Linked DNA regions of Homo sapiens. The protein of the gene in region 2 purifies or fractionates together with the protein of the main gene of each other region. This does not show direct contact. Each region holds a gene or a part of one and is shown on either strand. Other genes may lie near its edges. The genes, in order: LMNB2, ARHGEF5, GLOD4 and CCDC86.

Region 1 (3,565 bases), on a different chromosome or scaffold from region 2:
CAGGGTCCCCGGTCATTCCTCTGGCCACACTCCAACTCAGGGACAACGTGGATTCTCAAGCCACTGGCTGCTGTCACCCCCGTACCAGGTGGCCGAGGTGCCACCCCTCCTGCCAGCAGATCCCTCCATGCTGAGCCAGGCCTGCGTGGCTCTGGGAGAATGAGCAGTGTGGGAAGACCCTGACCCACCCCAGCCTGAGGAAATCCGAGGCACCTGCAGGTGCCTGAATGCCGGTGGCCGGAGACCACGGAAGACAGTGTCCACACGCAGGGCACCAGAGACCTCGCTCTAGCTGGAGCCTCACATCAAGAAAAGCCTTGAGCTCAGTGTTTCATTGGCCTCCTGGCTCCTCTGAATAAATATTCCTTTTGTCATCATCGTTCTGTTTAAATTGCCGCCCAACCACATCCCACGCCCAGAATCAGGCAAGACTCACTGCCAGGCTGAGAGGGGAGATCGTTTCTGCCGATGGACACAGTTGTCACCCAGAAGGACTTTGCAGCCAACCCTGGGGCAGCCCAACAACCCATGAGCACCCTGGTCACACACCACACACCCGAGCGTCCCAACAGCTGGGACAAAACCCCGGCACCAAGAACATCCAACCACAGGGAAATGCCTACGATGGGGCCTGAGGTCAAACGCGTCTCACGGTGTCCACTGGGTGCCGCCCGGGGTCTAGGTAAGCATGTGCAAGCGCGTGTGCACACTAAGGAGACAGGCCAGGCTGACCAGGAAGCCCTCTCTGGGGAGGCTCGCGGGAGATTTTACTTGTGAGCTTAAGCTGCCCTGCGCTTCCTGCTGTCCGATGTGAGCATCTATCACTTTCCTCAGAACAGAAAAAGTGACGTGGCAGCCACTGGTGGGGGAGAGAGGATGGGAGCTGTGAGCTCCAGGCTGTGCCCGTATCAGAGCATGCCCCGCACGAGCCCAGCGCCCACCTGCCCCCGTCCACCCCGTGGTGCCAGGATCAGGGTGACGTCGTGCCCAGCCGTGACCACTCACCTCTTGTTGACCTCGTCCAACTCTGCCCTCAGCTTCCCAATCTCTATCTGCAGCCGGGCACGCTCTCGAGCCGTCTCATCCAGGACTCTCCGGGCATCGGCCAGCTCCGACTCGTACAGCGCCTTGATGCCACTCACCTGGGGAGACCCAGGACAGGGTGAAGCGAGAGGGACCCTTCCCCTTGGACTACAGCAGTCAGGGGGCCCGGCCACTGGCCCTGCTCAGATTCCCAGGGACTGGCACGCAGAGAGAGAGGATGGCAGCCTGGGGACACTGGGACACCCTGTGTTGCCCATCTCACAGACACAGCAAAGGGAGCCCCCTGTCGGGGAGGGTCCGGTAACCAGGAGGAAGCCAGGCGACCCTGGGTCCCAGCCATCCCAGGAGCCTCCTCCTCTGCTGCGGCCCCCTCTGGAATGATCGTCTCTCCACGAGCTCCAGCTCCCAGAACAGCGGCGCCCAGTGCTGGAGACCAAAGGCCCTGGGCCTGGACCAGCACAGCAGCTGGATGGAGCCTGTCCCCTTCCCCGGAGGACCAGCCACACCTGGACATGCAGCCCCTTGGCCGCTGTCATAGCGACACGATGCCTGGCCATTAGATGCATTTTTCACACTCTCGGTTTCAGAACCAGAAAACTGGTGGGATGTTTAATCAAGGATCTCTCCCGCTGGGCACCATGGACACTGGGCTGATCACTCTCGGACAACTGGTGATGACAGCAACCCGGGGCCCTCCCAGACCCCACTGGGCCTGAGAGCCCCCTGCCCCCACCAGCCTTTGCAACCTGGAGTCCCCTCCCAGACCCCTCTGGGCCCCTGAGACTCCCCCCAGGCCTCTGCAACCTGGAGCCCCCGCTCCCCCAGACCCCGCTGAGCCCAAGATCCCCCACTTCTGCCAACCGGGGGCCAGCCCGTGCCCCTCTGTGCCCCTACCTCACACGCAGGCACATGGCCCAGGCTCAGGCTGGGCTGTTCCCTGGGATGGAGGGAGGAGCATCTGGCCTTCCCATGCTGTGTCCCCCCGACAGGCCAGCTGCCAATGTGGTGGCTCGGAGGCTCCAGGACAGAAGCTCCCACCCCTCAATCACAGAGATCTGCAGTCAGAGTCCCCAGCTCCCCACCCCACCAGCGGCCCCCACCTTTCACCCCTCGATCACAGGGATCTGTAGTCAGAGTCCCCAACTCCCCACCCCACCAGCGGCCCCCACCTTTCACCCCTCGATCACAGGGATCTGCAGTCAGAGTCCCCAGCTCCCTACCCCACCAGCGGCCCCCACCTTTCACCCCTCGATCACAGGGATCTGCAGTCAGAGTCCCCAGCTCCCCACCCCACCAGCGGCCCCCACGTTTCACCCCTCGATCACAGGGATCTGCAGTCAGAGTCCCCAGCTCCCCACCCCACCAGCGGCCCCCACCTTTCACCCCTCGATCACAGCGATCTGTAGTCAGAGTCCCCAACTCCCCACCCCACCAGCCGCCCCCACCTTTCACCCCTCGATCACAGGGATCTGTAGTCAGTCCCCAGCTGCCCCCCCCAACCAGCCGCCCCCACCTTTCACCCGTCGATCACAGGGATCTGTAGTCAGAGTCCCCAACTCCCCACCCCACCAGCTGCCCCCACCTTTCACCCCTCAATCACAGGGATCTGTAGTCAGAGTCCCCAACTCCCCACCCCACCAGCCGCCCCCACCTTTCACCCCTCGATCACAGGGATCTGTAGTCAGTCCCCAGCTGCCCCCCCCACCAGTCACCCCCACCTTTCACCCCTCGATCACAGGGATCTGTAGTCAGAGTCTCCAGCTCCCCACCCCACCAGCGGCCCCCACCTTTCCCGACGGAGACCCAGCCCAGCCAGCAAGGACATGGGGAGGGGCTGGAGAGCCAGGGGTCACCAGGGCAGGCAGAAGCGACTGGAACACCCTCTGGGCCGCCCAGCTAAAGAAAGCCCCTCCCTAAGCCCCGCGCAAAGCCCCCAAACCCGCCCCTCTCGAGGGCCTCCAGGTGAACTCGAGGCACATGCGGTGCCAGGGAAGGCGACCTCTTCACTTCCTACTAATCCTGCTGCAACCACAGCCGCCACCTGCCCGGCCTCTGCACGCGCCAGCTGGGGGCACAGCTCAGGCTTCTAGTGGCCTTCCTGCCTCCCCTCCTCCCACAGGGCCATGCACTCAGTGAGTTTAAAAATATGTGGAAGCAAACCGCAGTGAGATGCCACTTCGCACCAGCCAGGGCGTCCGTCAAGAAGACAGACAGTCGCAGGTGCGGGCGAGTACGCAGAGAAATCGGAACCTCACAGGCAGCGGCAGGAACCTGAGCTGAGACAGCTCTACAGAAAACAGTCCAGGGGCTCCCCCAAGAGTCACAGAGCCACCCTGTGACCCGGTAACTCCACTCCTGGGTGTGGACCCAGAAGACATGAAATTCACATCCATGCATGTTTGAAAACTACACATGGTGCCGGGCGCAGTGGCTCACACCTGTAATCCCAGCACTTTGGGAAGCCGAGGCGGGCGGATCACAAGGTCAGGAGATCGAGACCATCCTGGCTAACACAGTGAAA
Region 2 (4,208 bases):
CAATCTAGTGGCACAGTGCATGCCTGCCTCTGCAAGCCCATTGACACCGTTTCTAACTGTCTTTTTTCATTTGGAAATATCAGTGGTCACCTGCTCAGCCACCAGTTACCGCAAAGGGAGAACATACCCCACGTTCCCTATACTTGATCCTATCTCAGTGATCCCGTTGCAATCAGGCATGACAAAGCTAAAATGTGACAAAGTGAAAGGAAATCTGTAAATCATGGTCTTACTCACGTAAAGGCATCAGGAGAGAGTTTTTTGCAATGCTCATTACGTTAGAGTGCAAACATCCTCATCTCCTTCTCCACTGAGGGTGAATAATCACTGTTTATCTGTGTACAGGCAAAGCCAGGGCATGGGATTATGGGGATACGGCCTTGCTTCAGACCACAGACATTCTGCATCCACATAACCTCACCCACGTGTGACTTCTTGAGAGGCAAAGCTTCAAGTCATCCCTTTAACATAATGTGTGACAGAGCTCACTATCTTCCCTAGAGCCCCCCCCAACACCTTAGCTCTTGTCTATTTCTAGTCACTAGAAACAACACTGTATTTCAAGGATACAACCCCTCCCCAATCAAACTGCCAAATCTTTGAACTGAGACTCAGTGCCATATATATATTTTTGAGGACCATGCTTCCTGGATTTTCTAGCAAGGTTGATTTCAAATATTCTGACTTACAAATCACTAAAATAATATTGAGGTTAAAATAAGATCACCACATAGATATATAACTTTATTCACTGTTTGACATCACTGCCCTCAATACTACAAAGATATCAAAACAGGGGTAGCTTTCTGGACCACTGACTACTACAGTGTGTGTTCTATCCATTGCAGGAAAGTCCCACCATGCCAGTGAAAGCTGTAATACACATTTATCTATTCTCTAATGTCTGAAAATGTCACACCAACTGCCTTATAGACCAGATAGTTTATATAAGAACATTATTAGTGTCAATGCTGACTTACACTCTACAATCTCATCTGTGGTCCTGGTGGCATACACACAGATAACATTAGTGTGAGTGACGTGTTTGTGTATTAACACAGACCTTGAGGGTGACTTTGTTCCAGTCTACCTTGCAGGCACTATAAGTGATCGGCTCCTGCTTACTCCACAGACACTGTGAGTGACCCAGCCCCTGTCTACACTAGAGCTGTTGGTCACCTGTTTGTCTACACCACTGACACTTGAGTAATGCTGCTCCCGTTGAACCCAAGACCCTACGAGTGACTCCATTCCTGTCCATACCACATAGCGACTGACCTCTCCAGACACCACAAATGACGTATTCCTGTCTATCCCACAGACACCACGTGTAACGTGGCCACGGAACCTCAGACAGACCGCGTTAAGGGCACTGATACACTCTCAGGACCTCTAATATATGAACACTCTTCTCTCTATTGAGAATCACTATATTCTGTTGATGAGAGGGATTCCTTTGCACTCCTCCTGATTTCTCTCTCCTCCCCACTAGGACCATGACATACATTCCTCCTGCATATCAGTCTCACCCAGAACTGACACGCCCTCATCCCATCTTCCCAGCTCCCCAGGACTCCTTCACTAGCCATGGCTTCACTTTTAGGCCCACAGATTGGTTAACAAATGACACCCATTTTGCTAAGGCCTATGCCAGGAACTTCTTCATGCTCCAAATGTGGATAAAACAAGACGTCTGAGACAGAGGCCACATCAAGAGCTTTTTAGCTGGAGCTGGGACCTCTGGATTAGGCCCAAGATGCAAGGCCAGACAGTGGAGTGCAGTAGGGGAGCAAGCTAGGGAGGAAGCTCGAAAGGAAAACCACCCTCTCTCATCTGTTTGACACACCCTTCTCTCTCAACCAGACAAGAGTCCTGGCCAGAGTTCACTTCTAGGTAGACAGGAGGGCAAATCTGTCTTTGGAACCCAAGATCCAGGAAGGGAAGAAAGGGACTGAGATCTGGAAATGACGTAGTATCACAACTGGCTCTCCTCCGGTAGTCTTGCCGGAAGGCAACTGCAAAAGATGCTCAGGGGTTCTAGAGCTCTGCGTCCGCATTCTAGCACCCCAACGCCTACCTCAGCCCCCAACTCTAAATAACTTCTTTCCACCTTGCTAAGAATGCAACGTTGTGATTCACATCAAGCTTTAGGAGGCTCCCCATATGTAGGGAACTGGGGTGAGGGGCAGGGCAGGATTCACTGTTCCAGGTTACGGAGCTTTGGTTAACACGGAGAGAAGCTACACATAGACTCACACAGTATGCAAATACCTATGGAGATACATAAGGAAAGGCCCCGGCCTGGTTAAGGAAAAGGAGCCGATAAAACCTCTCCAGGTAAGGAACAGCCTAGAAAGGGAATCTCAGTTATTCCTTCTGATATGGCTTAGCTTTCCCCAGGGCGCCTACTTTGAAGAAAGAGCCCTGATTATTGGCCCGGGGAACGTCTGGGGGCAGGGTGCCCATTTCCTAGGCGGGACCCGACCGGAAGCAAACTTGTAGGCAACAACATTTCCTCTAGTTCCTCTCCTCTTCCCCACCAGGGTCCTCAGCCACACACCCCGAGCCCTGCCTGCGGGCCCAGCCCCCCCATTTCCGGAGCCTGCGCCCCGGACCCAGCGGGGGCTGATCCCTGGGAAAGGCCTGGCTTCCTCTTCCTTCCTGTCCCTGCCCCACCTCCGCCGGGCTCCACAGCCGCCGGGAGCCCAGGGCCGAGACGGGAGGAGGGCACCCACCTGGTCGGTGTCACATGCTGCTTCGGCCCCAGCGTCCCCTCCAGGTCCCGGCGCCGGCCGCAGTCCCCAGAGCCGTCCCCAGCGCAGGCCCGGCCGCCCCACCCGCGGCCCGCCCCTGGCCGCCCGACGGGAGGGAGGGATCGGGTTCTCCTAGGAAGTTTCAGGTGAGGAAACAGGGACACACCTTCCCGGAGGAGGGGCAGGGCCCCTCCGCGCGCGAGCCCCATTGGTGTGAAAGAAGCTCCCGCGTCAGAGCTGGGAAGTGCCGGGCCGGCGGGGAGGGGAGCCCGGGCGCACGGGCCAGGCCGCGGGCTGTCCCAGGGAGCCCCGAGGGCGCGGTGCGCGGGCGCAGGTCGGGCGCAGGCGGGGTGACCCGGGGAAGGGGCGCGCACAGAGACAGAGGGAGCCAGCCGGGCCCCACGGTGTCCTCGGACGCCTCCGAAATCTCCCTGCGTGTTTGTTTCTTCGGAGCTTCACCGGAGCCTGACTCTGGAACCGGCCTGTCTGCCTGCTGCAGTCTGTATGTGTTTGTCTTTTGCCTTGGCCGTGCCTCTGGAAGTCTGACATCCGTGGTTGTACATGTGTCTTTATCTTCAGGCCTCATTGGTTTTTGGTTTGTTCGTTGTTGTTGTTGTTGTTGTTGATGTTGTTGTTGTTGTTGTTGTTGTTGTTGTTTCTGAGACGGAGTCTCGCCCTGTTGCCCAGGCTGGAGTGCAATGGCGCGATCTCGGCTCACTGCAACCTCCGTCTCCGGGTTCAAGAGATTCTCCTGCCTCAGCCTCCCGAGTAGCTGGGATTACAGGTCCGCGCCACCATGCCCGGCTAATTTTTGTATTTTTTAGTAGAGGCCGGGTTTCGCCATGTTGGCCAGGCTGGTCTGGAAACTCCTGACCTCAGGTGATGCACCCGCCTCGGCCTCCCAAAGTGCTGGGATTACAGGCGTGAGCCACCGCGCCCGGCCAAGGCCTCAGTGTTGATTTCTCTTCCGTGATGTCTCCTCCTATAGAATAAAGAGTGTCTCCTCCATCTCCTCCTCCGCCCCCTTCTTCGTTTCTCTCTCTCTCTCCCTCCCTCCTCCCCCCTCCCTGTCCCTCTCCCTGCCTCTTCCTCTCCCCTCTTCCTTCTCCTACTTAGGGCCTAGAAGTGTGCCTCTCTGAAAGGACATGCCCGTGTCCTTCTGTATTCCCGAGTTTATTTTAGAATGAGTGCGTATCTCAGGGTGTATGTTCCTTCTAGGGCCTGTGTGTGTGTGTGTGTGTGTGTGTGTGTGTGTGTATTTAAATCTCTAAGCCCATGTTTGTGTGTTTTCTTATGCCTGTATTTTTTTTTTTATTCTTTCAGGGAAACGTTGTGTTCTGTTAGTCTTGGAGGCCAAGGCTGAGTGGGTTTATCTCTGTGCCCCTCCAGTGACTTCAAAGAATGCCAAAAGTCTCTCGAGTGTGCCTGTGTGCACACACAGACACACACAAAGTA
Region 3 (3,565 bases), on a different chromosome or scaffold from region 2:
TGAGTAGTGGTTGTATGAGTAAACACAACCGTCAAAACACATTTAAATTCTACCTAAATTATGCCTCATCAACAACAACCACCTGTCTGAGCTGAGGAAGGAGTTAAAAACTGGAAGTGAGGAGGCTGGAGCCAGGATGATGGTTACGTTCAGGGCAGAGGTAAGGAGAGGTCGCAGGTAAGCTCTCATCAGAGTGGAGGAAGAATGCAGAATGGGAAAAACAGCAAAGTAGGGCTATGGGTATAAAAACACTTTGGGATGAGACACAGAAAGAGGTGCCCGTGTCTGAGGAGAAACTGTCAGGAAGATGAAAATGGTAGGATGGCCAGGCGCAGTGGCTCACGCCTATAATCCCAGCCCTTTGGGAGGCCGAGGAGGGTGGATCACCTGAGGTCAGGAGTTCAAGAGACAGGGTTTCACCGTGTTAGCCAGGATGGTCTCGATCTCCTGACCTTGTGATCCGCCCGCCTCGGCCTCCCAAAGGGCTGGGGTTACAGGTGTGAGCCACCGCACCCGGCCTACTCAACCAGCCTGACCAACATGGTGAAACCCCATCTCTACTAAAAATACAAAAATTAGCCAGGTGTGGTGGTGCGTGCCTGTAATCCCAGCTACCAGCTACTCAGGAGGCTGAGGCAAGAGAACTGCTTGAACCTGGGAGGCAGAGGTTGCAGTGACCTGAGATCGCGCCACTGCACTCCAGCCTGGGCAAGAGAGTGAGACTCCCAACTCAAAAAAAAGAAAAATGGCAGGATCGCTAACAGCAGAGGAGAAGAGAGCTCAGGGAGCAGGAGTTCATCAATGGTTCACATCTATAATCCCAGCACTTTGGGAGGCCAAGATGGATCGAATGATTGAGCCCAGGAAGTTTGAAACCAGCCTGGGCAACATGGTGAAACCCCATCTCTAGAAAAAATACAAAAATTAGCCAGGCATGGTGGCGCACGCCTATGGTTCCAGCTACTAGGGAGGCTGAGGTGGGAGGATCACTGGAACATAGGAGGCGGAGGTTGCAGTGAGCTGAGATCATGCCACTGCACTCCAGCCTCGGTGACAGAGAGAGACCCCGTCTTAAAAAAAAAAAAATGGGCCCAGGCGTGGTGGCTCACGCCTGTAATCCCAGCACTTTGGGAGGCCAAGGCAGACGGATCGCCTGAAGTTAGGAGTTCAAGACCATCCTGGCCAACATGGTGAAGCCCCGTCTCTACTAAAAATACAAAAATTAGCCAGGCGTGGTGGCACGTGCCTGTAATCCCAGCTACTTGGGAGGCTGAGGCAGGAGAATCGCTTGATCCCGGGAGGTGGAGGTTGCAGTGAGCCAAGATTATGCCACTGCACTCCAGCCTAGTTGACAGAGCAAGAATCCGTCTCAAAAAATAAATAAAATAAAATGGGCCAGGCACAGTGGCTCACACCTGTAATCCCAGCACTTTAGGAGGATGAGGTGGGTAGATCACTTGAGGCTAGGAGTTTGAGACCAGCCTGGCCAACCTGGCAAAACCCTGTCTCTACTAAAAATACAAAAATTAGCCAGCATGGTGGCAAGTGCCTGTAGTTCCAGCTCCTTGGGAGGCCGAGGCAGAAGAATCGCTTGACCCTGGGAGGCGAAGGTTGCAGTGAGGCAAGATTGCACCATTGCACTCCACCCTGGGCGACAGAGCTAGACTCCATCTCAAAAAATTTAATTCAGTAATTAATTTAATTAAATTAAGAGCGAGGAGGAAGAGTCTGGCAAATTTGTCAGCTGAGAGGATGACAGATTCTACTTTCCTTCAGGATAAAATGTATAAAGACTGTATTTTCTATACATTGCCTGCTTTAACGTTAATTGTGCATCTACTATTATGTCAGTAATTTGCCAAGCTCTATAAACCATAACAATCTTATGAGATAGATCCTCTTATTTTCTGAAATTTTTGGATAAGAAGACTAAAGTTCAAAGAATTTAAGTCAACTGTTTAAGGTCAGTCACAGAGTTACGTGACAGAACCAAGAAAGACCAATTTGTTCCTTTAATCATTCAACAAAGTATTTGCAGAACGTCTAGTACATGCCAGGTATGTGCTAGGAGCTAGGATCCAACAACTACTTTGAATGCTTCTGAATTACTGAGTTTGATGAGAATCTAAAAGTAGTTGCTATATTTGGCAAGAAACAAAAGCACTTCACTGAGTAACAAGAGCCAGTGCAAAACAGACTGAAGTGAAAATGGGAGGCGAGAAAGAGAAACAGTGCACACTCAGATTTTTAGAAGAAGAAATCTGGAGAGGACGTAAGAGGGAGAAACAGCGCGCACTCAGATTTTTAGAGAAGAAATCTGGAGAGGACGTAAGAGAGAGAAACAGCGCACACTCAGATTTTTAGAAGAAGAAATCTAGAGAGGACGTGAGAGAGAGAAACAGCACGCACTCAGATTTTTAGAAGAAGAAATCTGGAGAGGACGTGAGAGAGAGAAACAGCGCGCATTCAGATTTTTAGAAGAAGAAATCTGGAGAGGACGTAAGAGAGGGAAACAGCGCGCACTCAGATTTTTAGAAGAAATCTGGAGAGGATGTGAGAGAGAGAAACAGCGCGCACTCAGATTTTTAGAAGAAATCTGGAGAGTATGTGAGAGAGAAACAGCGCGCACTCAGATTTTTAGAAGAAGAAATCTGGAGAGGACGTAAGAGAGAGAAACAGCGCGCACTCAGATTTTTAGAAAAAATCTGGAGAGGACGTAAGAGAGAGAAACAGCGCGCACTCAGATTTTTAGAAGAAATCTGGAGAGGACGTGAGAGAGAGAAACAGCGCGCACTCAGATTTTTAGAAGAAGAAATCTGGAGAGGACGTGAGAGAGAGAAACAGCGCGCACTCAGATTTTTAGAAGAAGAAATCTGGAGAGGATGTGTGAGAGAGAAACAGCGTGCACTCAGATTTTTAGAAGAAATCTGGAGAGGACGTGAGAGAGAGAAACGGCGCACACTCAGATTTTTAGAAGAAGAAATCTGGAGAGGATGTGTGAGAGAGAAACAGCGCGCACTCAGATTTTTAGAAGAAATCTGGAGAGGATGTGAGAGAGAGAAACAGGGCGCACTCAGATTTTTAGAAGAAGAAATCTGAAGAGGACGTGAGAGAGAGAAACAGCGCGCACTCAGATTTTTAGAAGAAGAAATCTGGAGAGGACGTAAGAGAGAGAAACAGCGCGCGCTCAGATTTTTAGAAGAAATCTGGAGAGGACATAAGAGGGAGAAACAGCGCGCACTCAGATTTTTAGAAGAAATCTGGAGAGGACGTGAGAGAGAGAAACAGCGCGCACTCAGATTTTTAGAAGAAATCTGGAGAGGACGTGAGAGAGAGAAACAGCGCGCACTCAGATTTTTAGAAGAAGAAGTCTGGAGAGGACGTGAGAGAGAGAAACAGCGCGCACTCAGATTTTTAGAAGAAGAAATCTGGAGAGGACGTGAGAGGGAGAAACAGCGCGCACTCAGATTTTTAGAGGAAGAAATCTGGAGAGGACGTGAGAGAGAGAAACAGCGCGCACTCAGATTTTTAGAAGAAATCTGGAGAGGATGTGAGAGAGAGAAAC
Region 4 (3,299 bases), on a different chromosome or scaffold from region 2:
CCCTACCACCCAGGACTTCCTCCCGGGCTTCTCCCCAAGGCCCGCTTCTGGTCCTCCCCCTCCGTCCCTGTCCCTGAGGCTCTTTCAGCAGCCCAGGCTAAACTGTATGGTCCCCTGGGCCTCCCTGCCCTGTAGTCCCAGATTGCACTTCTGCTTCTGGCCAGGTGCCCTTCCTCCCTCCGGCCTTCAGATTCAAGAACGTTTTTTAACCAAGTCGGCCTCCCCCAGGCACCCGTGGAGGCCCTCGCCTCAGGTCTGTACCAGTAGACACTAGCTTAGTCCTCTGAGCCCCAGCCTCAGCCTGGCTGGCCCCTCACCTGGCGGCGCCTCTCCTTCTCCTCCTCCAGGTGACGGGCAAAGTCCTTGGCCAGCTTCCTCTCCTGTCGTTCCTTCATCTTCCGCTGCCACGATGTGCGCAGGGGCTTGTCCTGAAGCATCTGGGAGAATCTGAAAGGGGGAGAGTGGGTGCATACAGGGTCTGTGGGGCAAGCGCCACCCATGCCCTGTCTCCTCTCGGCCGGAGGCTCTGGACCTTCTTCCCCAGAGCCCAGGCAGAACCACCTCCTTGCTGGCCTGACAGGCGGCCTTCCAGGGCTGCAGAAACTTGGGGCGGGAGGGAACCCTGATCGTGCTGGCTGCCATTTCTCAAGCCTTGGCTACATGCCTCTGAGGTGGGTACTCCTATCCTCTCCACTTACAGAGGAGCAGGCCAAGGCGCGGAGAGGTTAAATAGCTGCCTAAAGATACCTTGTGGCAGTCAGGACTTGAATCCTGTCAGCGACTGCAGAGTCCAGGCTACGCGGCCCCTGCTGTAAAGTTCTGTTGCTTCCGCCAAGTGCATTTGGCCCGGGTGTGAATGCCTCTGGAGGCGGGGCGCTCACCCCCTAGGGAGGTGGCCCATTCCATTTCAGAACAGTGTGAGTGGTTAAAGTTCTGGGTAATGATTCAGGATCTTCCCCGCCAAGACCGGATGCAGTGGTCATGCTTGTAATCCCAGCACTTTGGGAGGCCAAGGTGGGCAGACCACGTGAGTCCAGGAGTTGGAGACCAGCCGGGCAAACATGGCAAAACCTACTAAGCCTACTAAAACCTACTAAAGTTTCTACTAAAAATACAAAAATTAGCTGGGTGTGATGGTGTATGCCTATAGTCCCAGCTACTTGGGAGGCTGAGGTACAACAATTGCTTGAACCTGGGAGGTGGAGGTTGCAGTGAGCCGAGATCGCGCCACTGCACTCCAGCCTGGGTGACAGAGCAAGACTCTGTCTCAAAAAAAAAAAAGAAAAAAGAAAAAAGAAAAAGAATCTCTTCCCCCAGTTGGAGATGAAGTGGGCATCAGGGCTCTCAGGGAAATCTGAAAAGAGCAACGATGATTTTAGAGTTACAGGAGAACTGAGCTCATCTCTGTAAAAATGCATACTACAAGGATTTATGAATGGGATGATATGTCTAGGATGTACTTTAAAATATTTCAGGGAAAAAAAAATGCCAAAGATCAGCCGGGCGCAGTGGCTCACGCCTGTAATCCCAGCACTTTGGGAGGCTGAGGTGGGCCGATCACCTAAGGTCGGGAGTTCGAGACCAGCTTGACCAACATGGAGAAACCCTGTCTCTACTAAAAATACAAAATTAGCTGGGTGTGGTGGCACACACCTGTAATCCCAGCTACTTGGGAGGCTGAGGCAGGAGAATCGCTTGAACCCAGGAGGCGGAGGTTGCGGTGAGCCGAGATTGCTCCATTGCACTCTGGCCTGGGCAACAAGAATGAAACTCCGTCTCAAAACAAAAAAAAAGAAAAAAAGAAAAAAAAGCCAAGTATCAAAGATGAAGCTACACTAGTAAAATGCTGAGCTGTGTTGATGCTGATAATGGGGACTTGAGAGCTTTGCTCTTTCTTTGTATGCTTGAAAATTTCCATTCAAAAAAAGTAAAAACAAAATGCAAAGAAGTCTCTCGGTGGCCTCCACATGCTGAAATTAGGTCTTTCTCTTTTAAAGATTCAAGGCCCATTTTGGTGTCCCTTGGCCCTGCCGACTTCTGGCCCCAGCTCCCTGATTTCCTTCTCCCCTTCCCAAGGCCTTGCCACTGAAGGCCTGGCCTCCTAAGCACTAAGAATGGGGTGCCACATGGACTTCCCCCATAACTGTAAAGCTGGGCTTCCCAAGCTGGGGTACGAGAACCCTGAAGGGACAAGGTGTTGGGAGCCTAGAGACACACAGAACCACAAGACACAGTGCTGCATCTGTGTAGAGCAGGGCTGTCAAACAGAACGTTCTGTGATGGTGGAAACATTCCACATTGACACTGTCCAATAAGGTAGCCACTAGTCATGGGTGGCTGCTGAGCGCTAGAAATGTGGTTGGTGTTGATAGAGAAACTGAATCTTAAATTTTATTTAATTTTAATTAATTTAAATGTACATAGCCACATGTGGCTGGCGGCTAAGGTACTGAGGCAGGGCAGTTCCAGACCATTGGTTCTACCTGGGTATTGAGGAAACTCAGGCCTGGGTTCCAAGTCCAACCTGGGTGACCTGGAGCAAGGTAGCCTCTCTAAGTCTCAGCATCCTGTCCAGTGGAGATGAGAATCATTCCTAACCCAAAGGGTGGTGGGAGATTTAATCGACACACACACGTAATAGGTGCTCCATAAATGCTACTCCTCAGAGAAGGCAGACAGCATGCCCAAGGGCACTATGGAGAAAGTGGCGTTTGGCATGAGCACGAAGACAGGGCTGCAGCCAGGTCTCCCTCACCACATACACTTTCCCAGCTGCGGCTGTCTTCCTCCCTGCAGCAGGAGCTGCTTCCCACCCATCTCCAGGCTCACTTACTACCCACCGAAGCTGCTCCCTCAAAGATCCCAAACATCCATTCAGTGGCCCTGCTGGGCCCCTCGCCACAGACTTGCCTGCAGCTTCGGAAGCTGTTTTAGTTCTCTTGAGACAGCCTCCTTGTGGGTTTTCCTGCCTTCACCCCTGCCCGCCTATGTCTGTGTTCAGTAGCCAGGCTGATCTCACAAGTCAGGTCATTTCATTCCTTTGCTTGACACCCTTCCATGGCTCCCAAGCTCACTCAGGAAAGCCGGGAGTCCCTGTAAGGGTCACCAGGTCCTGCTGTCTCTCTGACCTCATCTCCTACTGTTCCCCTTCTCCCCCTCATTCCAGCAGCGAGACCTCTGGAAAGCCTCTCAAACGGGAGCTTGCTCCCGCCTCAATACCTCTGAACATCCCTTTCCTGTTGCCTGGATACTGTTTCCCCAGATCTCTGCCCGGCTCCCTCTGCTCAGACCTGTTTATC

What was found.
Region 1: the proteins of ARHGEF5 (region 2) and LMNB2 purify together in Homo sapiens (affinity purification with mass spectrometry, with the first as the bait; one large-scale study listed by BioGRID). This does not show direct contact.
Region 3: the proteins of ARHGEF5 (region 2) and GLOD4 purify together in Homo sapiens (affinity purification with mass spectrometry, with the first as the bait; one large-scale study listed by BioGRID). This does not show direct contact.
Region 4: the proteins of ARHGEF5 (region 2) and CCDC86 purify together in Homo sapiens (affinity purification with mass spectrometry, with the first as the bait; one large-scale study listed by BioGRID). This does not show direct contact.

The regions. Positions count from the first base shown.
Region 1 is NC_000019.10:2,443,399-2,446,963, forward strand, and holds part of LMNB2 (lamin-B2), read right to left. Parts: intron 1,143-3,565; coding exon 1,006-1,142; intron 1-1,005. UniProt on the Homo sapiens protein: Lamins are intermediate filament proteins that assemble into a filamentous meshwork, and which constitute the major components of the nuclear lamina, a fibrous layer on the nucleoplasmic side of the inner nuclear membrane.
Region 2 is NC_000007.14:144,354,029-144,358,236, reverse strand, and holds the start of ARHGEF5 (rho guanine nucleotide exchange factor 5), read right to left. Parts: upstream 2,836-4,208; 5' UTR 2,736-2,835; exon of another isoform or gene 2,519-2,735; intron 1-2,518. UniProt on the Homo sapiens protein: Guanine nucleotide exchange factor which activates Rho GTPases. Strongly activates RHOA. Also strongly activates RHOB, weakly activates RHOC and RHOG and shows no effect on RHOD, RHOV, RHOQ or RAC1.
Region 3 is NC_000017.11:765,225-768,789, forward strand, and holds part of GLOD4 (glyoxalase domain-containing protein 4), read right to left. Parts: intron 1-3,565.
Region 4 is NC_000011.10:60,845,072-60,848,370, reverse strand, and holds part of CCDC86 (coiled-coil domain-containing protein 86), read right to left. Parts: intron 448-3,299; coding exon 318-447; intron 1-317.